Linked DNA regions of Homo sapiens: region 1 is linked to region 2. The links come from fine-mapping of genetic effects on gene expression. A gene starts in region 2. The other region holds a variant in brackets. All regions are shown on one strand. Distances are between the middles of the regions.

Region 1 (5,000 bases), 55 kb after region 2:
GGGATCAGCCAGTTCTGCCTCTTAACTAACTTTGCTGTCCTGCTCTCCAGGCTTTCATTTTGGTCCTCATTCCTTTTCCTTGGACCAACACAGAATCCTCCACCCTGTTCTGGCTGCCTCTAGTCTTGTTCTCAGCCCTCCATTTGTTTTTTTCTGCCTTTTCCCACATGTTCTGAAGCCCTCCATTCGTATACTACTTTCCAGAGACTTCCCCATGGCTAAAAGCATTTTGGAAATACTGTATATTAGGCCCCTTTCAGATACTGGCAACCGTTTGTGGGATGCTCTGAGAAGGCCTCTGTGACTTAGCCTGGCCCTTTTCAGCCCATCACCTGCCACGTCCTACCCCAGACCCTTGTCACCAGTCCCCAGGAGCTTACGTTGCTCCCTGAGGGCACTAGGCTTGCTCTCACTTCCATGCCTTTGCCTGTGCCATCCTGGCTGCCCAAAATGCTATGGCAGATACCTGTTCATCCTCAACTGGGCTCTGCCTAGGCTTGCTCCAGCAGAGGTTACAAACTCTATGCTTCTTCCTCTGTGTCTCCAACCTCATCTTCCTCTTCTCACCTCCATCCTGGCCCTAAAGGCCCTATGTTTGAAGCATTCACACTGTATATTCTGTGGGGCACACGGCCCCAGTGTCTGGCACATGGTAGTCAACACCACAAACCGCAGAACCAGTTGTAAAAGGACATGGAGTCGGAATGTGAGTTTTAACCAGGGTCATGCTGGGCTGGGTTCTGGCATGATGCTGGGTTGTGGGCTGAGTGAGAACAGCAAGGGTGATGGTGGATGGAGCAACAGTCTTGCAGCCGGGGCTCTCAGGCCAAGTGTATGGCAGCTCTGTGATAATGACTTTCCCTTTACTCTTTGCAGATTAGTTTTTAGAGGCATGTCTATATCTCGCCCAAATGCTGTGGTCGGGAGGTGTCGCATGATCCGCCACTCAAGAGACAAGAAAAATGAACCCAATCCTCAGAGGTGCATTCTTTGTTTATTCATACTCCTTCCCCCTTTAGGATGAGGTAGGCTGCAGGTCCGAGGCTCTGGGCCTAGAGGGAAATTGAGGTGGTCAGGTTACAGTGGAGAGGGAGGAGGAAGTACGTGTGATGATTTCTTCTTAAGATTTTTGTTTTAAGACAATCTCCTTGTGCTCTTTTCCTTGTAGGTTTGACCGAATTGCACACACAAAGGAGACAATGCTCTCTGATGGTTTGAACTCACTCACCTACCAGGTGCTGGATGTACAGAGATACCCATTGTATACCCAAATCACAGTGGACATCGGGACACCGAGCTAGCGTTTTGGTACACGGATAAGAGACCTGAAATTAGCCAGGGACCTCTGCTGTGTGTCTCTGCCAATCTGCTGGGCTGGTCCCTCTCATTTTTACCAGTCTGAGTGACAGGTCCCCTTCGCTCATCATTCAGATGGCTTTCCAGATGACCAGGACGAGTGGGATATTTTGCCCCCAACTTGGCTCGGCATGTGAATTCTTAGCTCTGCAAGGTGTTTATGCCTTTGCGGGTTTCTTGATGTGTTCGCAGTGTCACCCCAGAGTCAGAACTGTACACATCCCAAAATTTGGTGGCCGTGGAACACATTCCCGGTGATAGAATTGCTAAATTGTCGTGAAATAGGTTAGAATTTTTCTTTAAATTATGGTTTTCTTATTCGTGAAAATTCGGAGAGTGCTGCTAAAATTGGATTGGTGTGATCTTTTTGGTAGTTGTAATTTAACAGAAAAACACAAAATTTCAACCATTCTTAATGTTACGTCCTCCCCCCACCCCCTTCTTTCAGTGGTATGCAACCACTGCAATCACTGTGCATATGTCTTTTCTTAGCAAAAGGATTTTAAAACTTGAGCCCTGGACCTTTTGTCCTATGTGTGTGGATTCCAGGGCAACTCTAGCATCAGAGCAAAAGCCTTGGGTTTCTCGCATTCAGTGGCCTATCTCCAGATTGTCTGATTTCTGAATGTAAAGTTGTTGTGTTTTTTTTTAAATAGTAGTTTGTAGTATTTTAAAGAAAGAACAGATCGAGTTCTAATTATGATCTAGCTTGATTTTGTGTTGATCCAAATTTGCATAGCTGTTTAATGTTAAGTCATGACAATTTATTTTTC[T/G]TGGCATGCTATGTAAACTTGAATTTCCTATGTATTTTTATTGTGGTGTTTTAAATATGGGGAGGGGTATTGAGCATTTTTTAGGGAGAAAAATAAATATATGCTGTAGTGGCCACAAATAGGCCTATGATTTAGCTGGCAGGCCAGGTTTTCTCAAGAGCAAAATCACCCTCTGGCCCCTTGGCAGGTAAGGCCTCCCGGTCAGCATTATCCTGCCAGACCTCGGGGAGGATACCTGGGAGACAGAAGCCTCTGCACCTACTGTGCAGAACTCTCCACTTCCCCAACCCTCCCCAGGTGGGCAGGGCGGAGGGAGCCTCAGCCTCCTTAGACTGACCCCTCAGGCCCCTAGGCTGGGGGGTTGTAAATAACAGCAGTCAGGTTGTTTACCAGCCCTTTGCACCTCCCCAGGCAGAGGGAGCCTCTGTTCTGGTGGGGGCCACCTCCCTCAGAGGCTCTGCTAGCCACACTCCGTGGCCCACCCTTTGTTACCAGTTCTTCCTCCTTCCTCTTTTCCCCTGCCTTTCTCATTCCTTCCTTCGTCTCCCTTTTTGTTCCTTTGCCTCTTGCCTGTCCCCTAAAACTTGACTGTGGCACTCAGGGTCAAACAGACTATCCATTCCCCAGCATGAATGTGCCTTTTAATTAGTGATCTAGAAAGAAGTTCAGCCGAACCCACACCCCAACTCCCTCCCAAGAACTTCGGTGCCTAAAGCCTCCTGTTCCACCTCAGGTTTTCACAGGTGCTCCCACCCCAGTTGAGGCTCCCACCCACAGGGCTGTCTGTCACAAACCCACCTCTGTTGGGAGCTATTGAGCCACCTGGGATGAGATGACACAAGGCACTCCTACCACTGAGCGCCTTTGCCAGGTCCAGCCTGGGCTCAGGTTCCAAGACTCAGCTGCCTAATCCCAGGGTTGAGCCTTGTGCTCGTGGCGGACCCCAAACCACTGCCCTCCTGGGTACCAGCCCTCAGTGTGGAGGCTGAGCTGGTGCCTGGCCCCAGTCTTATCTGTGCCTTTACTGCTTTGCGCATCTCAGATGCTAACTTGGTTCTTTTTCCAGAAGCCTTTGTATTGGTTAAAAATTATTTTCCATTGCAGAAGCAGCTGGACTATGCAAAAAGTATTTCTCTGTCAGTTCCCCACTCTATACCAAGGATATTATTAAAACTAGAAATGACTGCATTGAGAGGGAGTTGTGGGAAATAAGAAGAATGAAAGCCTCTCTTTCTGTCCGCAGATCCTGACTTTTCCAAAGTGCCTTAAAAGAAATCAGACAAATGCCCTGAGTGGTAACTTCTGTGTTATTTTACTCTTAAAACCAAACTCTACCTTTTCTTGTTGTTTTTTTTTTTTTTTTTTTTTTTTTTTTGGTTACCTTCTCATTCATGTCAAGTATGTGGTTCATTCTTAGAACCAAGGGAAATACTGCTCCCCCCATTTGCTGACGTAGTGCTCTCATGGGCTCACCTGGGCCCAAGGCACAGCCAGGGCACAGTTAGGCCTGGATGTTTGCCTGGTCCGTGAGATGCCGCGGGTCCTGTTTCCTTACTGGGGATTTCAGGGCTGGGGGTTCAGGGAGCATTTCCTTTTCCTGGGAGTTATGACCGCGAAGTTGTCATGTGCCGTGCCCTTTTCTGTTTCTGTGTATCCTATTGCTGGTGACTCTGTGTGAACTGGCCTTTGGGAAAGATCAGAGAGGGCAGAGGTGGCACAGGACAGTAAAGGAGATGCTGTGCTGGCCTTCAGCCTGGACAGGGTCTCTGCTGACTGCCAGGGGCGGGGGCTCTGCATAGCCAGGATGACGGCTTTCATGTCCCAGAGACCTGTTGTGCTGTGTATTTTGATTTCCTGTGTATGCAAATGTGTGTATTTACCATTGTGTAGGGGGCTGTGTCTGATCTTGGTGTTCAAAACAGAACTGTATTTTTGCCTTTAAAATTAAATAATATAACGTGAATAAATGACCCTATCTTTGTAACTGCAGGTGGTTTCTGTTTGCCAGGTGTAAGGGTTGTCATGGCTGTGGGATGGGGTGGGGACAGGGTCATTCCCTGGTCTGTGACCCATACAAATACACATGCCTCCCTGGAATCAGACATTTCCCCATCTGAACTTCATTCTCTTATCTGTAAAATGGGAATAATAACACATAGGGACTTTTTTGAGGCTTAAAAGTGACGATATATGTAAAACAATGACTAATGCCTCACAAGTACTCACTACATAGTAGCTAGTGCCATTTCAAAGTAGAATTTTTTTCCCCTAGCAGTTCTTGGGCCACATTCTGCTATTTTCAACAGATACCAGGATCATTCAGATGTAGATCTCAGGGCCATTTGCACCAGGTGCTCACAGTGTAACTTGAAGGGAATTATCCAAAATGAGGTTTCTTGTCAGTCTCAGGAAATGTAACCATAAGCTCTAAAAGGTCTTAGTTTTTACCCAGGTGCCTCCTCCTTGGTGGCCCTGGGTCAGGCTGGTTGGATTGAATTGGCACTCCTGAAGAAGGGCTGCAGGAAACCAGTGAGCAGGAGAGCCACCCTTGGCAGGGAGCTGCAGGCCCTGCCTGCATGTCACTGCTGGAGGGATCCCTGGTGACCTCAGGCCTGTGCAAAGGTGGCCTGGGGTTCAGATCTGGCCTTCAAACAGGACAACTCTGGTCCTTTGGACAAAATGCTGCCTTAGAGGGTCTGACAAAATTAAAAACAAACAAAAAAAAACCTGTTTCTTTCCTTCTCACACACCACCACTCACAACACTTCAGTTCTGCCCCTAGATATGTAGGGATTTCTCCCCACCAACAAGCAGTTTTCTAGTGGACACTAGCTGGGTGTCCTACAGTTTAACTCAATTCTGACACTGTCT
Region 2 (5,500 bases):
CCACTTTACGTTCTAAACTAAGTTAGCAATAATTTTTCCCTTCTCTCCTTCCCACATCATTAAGATGATCACAGTATTTAAAAAGTATTTTAACAAATATCGGCCGGGCACGGTGGCTCACAACTGTAATCCCAGCACTTTGGGAGGCCGAGGCAGGCAGATCACGAGGTCAAAAGATTGAGACCATTCTGGATAACACGGTGAAACCCCATCTCTACTAAAAATACAAACAAATTAGCCGGGCATGGTGGCAGGCACCTGTAGTCCCAGCTACTTGGGAGGCTGAGGCAGGAGAATGGCGTGAACCCAGGAGGCAGAGCTTGCAGTGAGCCAAGATCACGCCACTGCACTCCAGCCTGGGTGACAGAGTGAGACTCCGTCTCAAAAAAAAAAAAAAAAAAATCTAGGGGCTGAAGATACAGTAGTGAACAAGAGAGAAATTTCCTGTTCTCATGAAGCTGATTTTCTAATGAGGGAGGCAAGACAACAGAAAATAAATGCATAATGTTGGGTAGTTGATATCCACTCTGAAAAAAATCAAGCAGGTTAAGGCCGGGCGCGGTGGCTCACGCCTGTAATCCCAGCACTTTGGGAGGCCGAGGCGGGCGGATCACCTGAGGTCAGGAGTTTGAAACCAGCCTGGCCAACATGGTGAAATCCGTCTCTACTAAAAACACAAAAAATTAGCCCGGCGTGATGGCAGGCACCTGTAATCCCAGCTACTCAAGAGGCTGAGGCAGGAGAATCGCTTGAACCCGGGAGGCAGAGGTTGCAGTGAGGTGAGATTGCACCATTGCACTCCAACCTGGGGGACAAAAGCAAGACTTTGTCTCAAAAAAAAAAAAAAAAAAATTCAAGCAGTTTAAGCAGATTTGGGCAGGAGGCCATTCTGCATAAGGTAGTCTGAAAAGGTCTCTGTCATAAGGTGACATTTAAGAGACCTGAATTGAATGAAATATTGGGGACAAGTGTTTCAGGCTAAATGAACAGCAAGTACAAAGGCCCTGAGGCAGGAAGAAATATGGCAAGTTCAAGGAATAGCTATCAGGCTAGTGTGGCTAAGGCAGGTCCAGCATGGTAGAGTGACAGATGTGGGTGGGGAGGGAAATAGGAACCAGATTGAACAGGGTTTCTGTGGATTTGGTTCTGAACAAAATGGCATGATCTGATTTATGCTTACAAAGATTTCCTGGATGCTCTGTGGAAAACAGACTAGGGAGGAGGAATGGAGGAGGTGGAAGCAGGGTGACCAATTAGTAGCTGCCATATAACCCAGGGCAAGATGATGGTGGCTTGATCGAGGATGGTTACATCAGAGTTGGCTGGTGGTGAATTTTGATGTTTTGAAGGTAGCACTGACAAAGCTGGCTGAGGGCTTGCAAATGGCATTGAGAGCAAGAGAAGCACATCAAGGACACCTTTTAGATTCTGGGGAACTGAATAAACAATAGTATCACTCTCTGAGGGAGGTAAGAACGGGAGTGGTGTGTAAGGAGTAGGTTGCTGAGGGCAAGATGTATTGTGTTTGAGATGCCAGTAAAATAAGCAGTTGAATCTGGAGGTCAGGGAAGAGATCTGGGCTGGAGACAAATCAGTGATCAGCATTTGGATATTATAAATCATTCCGAGGCAGTAAGTGTAGACACAAAAGAACATCATGGACTATGGCTGGGGCCTTCAGCAACTGGGGAAGAAGTCCAGAGAGGAGACAGAAATGGCCAGTGAAGTGAGGAAGATCAGAAGGACCTGGTGTCCAGGAAGTCAAGTGAGGAAAGTTGATTCTGTATGATCACAACCAAAGTGTCAACTCATAAGCCTTATTTTCTCATCTGTGAAATGGACACCGTAACACCACCTACTTCATGGCAGATAGTACTGGCACACAGCAAACTCTCAAAATAAGGTAGCTACTGTTATTCCCTGATGGTTGGCTGCCAGAGCCCTCAACTTCCCTATCCACATTACTGACAGCACCTCCATGAGTCTTTCTCTGGGGTGAGGTGTCTCTGCTCACTCAGGGCCTGAGGCCTCTGGGTCAAATCGAGGTCAAGTGGCTTCAGTGCCTAAGTCTCTCACCCACACAGCCTTCAGCCCTTACTTGCAAATCAACAAAGGGTAAACCTGTAGAAAACATGGGTTTCGGAGCCAGAATTCTGCCTCTTGCCAGCTGTGGGCTCTTAGGAAAGTTTCTTAATCTGCCGGGGCCCCACTCTACGACATGGGGAGAACTGCTACTTCATGGGACAGTGGGTAGCCCAGTGTAGACTGTAACGCCGGCTGATCTCCTGCACGCTGGCCTGGGAGTTAGAGGCTTCTTGCTGCTCTCCTCTTCAAAGTATACAGGACTCCCGCCACACACACATCTGGAACCAAGCTGGTCTGAGAGCCCCTTATAGCCCAGGCTACCTGATGGGGAGGCACAGAAGTGGCAACCCGTCCACTTTCTTTGCCGCAGGACCCCCCGTTAAGCAGCGGGGTCCAGCCGGGCTGAGTTAGGGAGGGGGTTTCGAACGTGCCACTCCTCGCCCGGCGTCGAAGCCCGTTTCCTGGGTAACCTTTTTCTGCCTCTCTTCCTAGCCCACCAAGGCCCACTGGCCAGAACGCCGCCGCGGCCCCAAACCACTCCAGATAACCACCCGCCAGCTGTCCTCTCCGTTCTCTCCGCCGCCGCGCTGCAGGCCCAGGCTCGCACCCGAGTCCCTTCGCACCCCAGGAAGTGGCGCGGCCTGTCGAGGGCAGCGTGGAGGAGGAAGAGGAGGCGCGGCTCAACGCGACCGAAGCTCCGCCGCAAAGGCTCGGGAGGAAGAGGGCGGTGCGCGGCCAAGCGTCGGAGCTGCAGTCATACTCCGGGGACCCCACGACGGCGCCCCGCCCGCTGCCCACCCTCCCGAGGCCCCGCCCAGCGCGCCCATCCCGCCACGGGCTGCCCCGCCTTCCCGCCCTCGTCCAGAAAACCCCGCGCCCGGCCCCGCCCCCGCCTTCGCCGGGGCCCCGCCCCTCCCCTCTCCGCCGGCGCCTCGGGCGGCTTCTCGCCGCTCCCAGGTCTGGCTGGCTGGAGGAGTCTCAGCTCTCAGCCGCTCGCCCGCCCCCGCTCCGGGCCCTCCCCTAGTCGCCGCTGTGGGGCAGCGCCTGGCGGGCGGCCCGCGGGCGGGTCGCCTCCCCTCCTGTAGCCCACACCCTTCTTAAAGCGGCGGCGGGAAGATGAGGCTTCGGGAGCCGCTCCTGAGCGGCAGCGCCGCGATGCCAGGCGCGTCCCTACAGCGGGCCTGCCGCCTGCTCGTGGCCGTCTGCGCTCTGCACCTTGGCGTCACCCTCGTTTACTACCTGGCTGGCCGCGACCTGAGCCGCCTGCCCCAACTGGTCGGAGTCTCCACACCGCTGCAGGGCGGCTCGAACAGTGCCGCCGCCATCGGGCAGTCCTCCGGGGAGCTCCGGACCGGAGGGGCCCGGCCGCCGCCTCCTCTAGGCGCCTCCTCCCAGCCGCGCCCGGGTGGCGACTCCAGCCCAGTCGTGGATTCTGGCCCTGGCCCCGCTAGCAACTTGACCTCGGTCCCAGTGCCCCACACCACCGCACTGTCGCTGCCCGCCTGCCCTGAGGAGTCCCCGCTGCTTGGTAAGGACTCGGGTCGGCGCCAGTCGGAGGATTGGGACCCCCCCGGATTTCCCCGACAGGGTCCCCCAGACATTCCCTCAGGCTGGCTCTTCTACGACAGCCAGCCTCCCTCTTCTGGATCAGAGTTTTAAATCCCAGACAGAGGCTTGGGACTGGATGGGAGAGAAGGTTTGCGAGGTGGGTCCCTGGGGAGTCCTGTTGGAGGCGTGGGGCCGGGACCGCACAGGGAAGTCCCGAGGCCCCTCTAGCCCCAGAACCAGAGAAGGCCTTGGAGACTTCCCTGCTGTGGCCCGAGGCTCAGGAAGTTTTGGAGTTTGGGTCTGCTTAGGGCTTCGAGCAGCCTTGCACTGAGAACTCTGGTAGGGACCTCGAGTAATCCACTCCCTTTTGGGGACTGACGTGAGGCTCCCGGTGGGGAAGGAGACTGACCTCTCGGTTCACGTGTCTTGCCATAGAGCCACTCTCCTGAGTGGGTTTTTCTCCTGATCGTTTGGGCCAAGTGACTTCTCTCTGAACCTCATATTTCTCTTCTGGGATAATAAATGGTCACCCTTTCAAGGGGTTGTTTTGGAAGATATTGTGAACAATGGTAAATAAGGGCTTAATTAATGAGGGTAAGCCCTCAGTAAATTGTCACTGTGTGTTCATTTCTTCCTCTGTGTGGATCGTGACCGAGAGCCCTTCCCCCTAGCCTCCTCCTGGTATGGGTACCCAAAACCTAGGTGAGCAGGGATCTCTCCCAGGGGCAGAGAGCTTGTGTACTCTGGGTGTTAGAGGGCTAAAATATAACCAGTCAACACCACGTTGCCCATTTCTGGTACTTCCGGTAGCAGCCTGAGTCTCAATTATCTTGCCCAGATGATCTGAACTCTGACCTCTAGCCTGTTTCAGCATAGGCAGAGAGCTTGAGTAGGTGAGTTTGCATTCCTCATAGCAGCTGGCTGAGCCTAGTCTGGACTTCTCTTTGACCTGTAACCTACAGGCCCACAGGCCCAAGGCAACCACAGGTTGCTTCCAGGGTTACCACACAGGTGGTTTCTCATTTCTAATGCTAGGTTTTAGATAATTGTTGTAAGTGAGGGGCCCTGGCAGGCAGGATGACATCCTGCCAATAGGAGTTTTCTGTCACTTTCCCACAGAGCCCTGGCTACTACATACTCTTGCTCAATTTCGCCAGTAATTGCGTCAATGTGTTCATATCAAGTTTGGGAAGAACATCTTGGAATTGGTCAGACGTGAACTGTGGTAATAATGGGGGCTTGTTTTTTTAAGCAGATAATTAAATTCCTTTGCATTTGATGATTATTCTGGGAAGCAGACTAGTCCCATAAAATGAAATGGACTCTGCCTTGCTGCTAAGTGTCTGACTTGAGACATGCTATCGAGTTTCTCAAAATCTCTTCCTTGTGTAAAATGTGGTTGTCGATGATTACCTTACAGGGGTTTTTTTAAGACTAAATGAGATCGTGTACATTAAATACAGGCACTCAGGCTGGGCATGGTGGCTCACGCCTGTAATCCTAGCACTTTGGGAGGCTGAGGGGAGTGGATCACTTGAGGTTAGGAGTTTGAGACCAGCCTGGCCAATATGGTGAAACACCATCCCATCTCTACAAAAATACAAAAAAGTTAGCCAGGGGTGGTGGCATCGCAGCTACTCAGGAGGCCGAGGCAGGAGAATTGCTTGAACCTGGGAGGCAGAGGTTGCAGTGAGTCAAGATTGTGCCAGTACACTCCAGCCTGGGCGACGAAGCAAGACTGTCTAAAAAAAAAAAAAAAAAAAAAAATACGGGCACTCAATACACCGTATAATAATAATATAGTAATAATATTTGCTTAGGATCTTTAAAAAGTTTCATTTTTTCAGACTCCCACAGAAATGGCTCT

What was found.
Region 1: its variant is fine-mapped to the expression of B4GALT1 in whole blood (TOPMed, PIP 0.98).

Annotation. Positions count from the first base shown.
Region 1 is chr9:33,109,755-33,114,754 of GRCh38, reverse strand. B4GALT1 (beta-1,4-galactosyltransferase 1) reads left to right here. Exons shown (of 6, transcript NM_001497.4): 5 at 877-981; 6 at 1,169-4,113. The coding sequence ends at 1,301. Among named protein-coding and RNA genes, the nearest start is that of MIR12117, 3.6 kb to the right of the region's middle. RefSeq lists an enhancer at 2,565-3,164. The variant T/G (reference allele first, on the strand shown) is at 2,130.
Region 2 is chr9:33,164,871-33,170,370 of GRCh38, reverse strand. It overlaps B4GALT1 (beta-1,4-galactosyltransferase 1), which reads left to right and starts at 3,035. Exons shown (of 6, transcript NM_001497.4): 1 at 3,035-3,613. The coding sequence starts at 3,202. It overlaps B4GALT1-AS1 (B4GALT1 antisense RNA 1), which reads right to left and starts at 3,423. Exons shown (of 3, transcript NR_108110.1): 1 at 3,325-3,423. RefSeq lists enhancers at 2,452-2,531, 2,054-2,618, 2,602-2,701, 2,619-3,184 and silencers at 2,852-3,251, 3,010-3,283.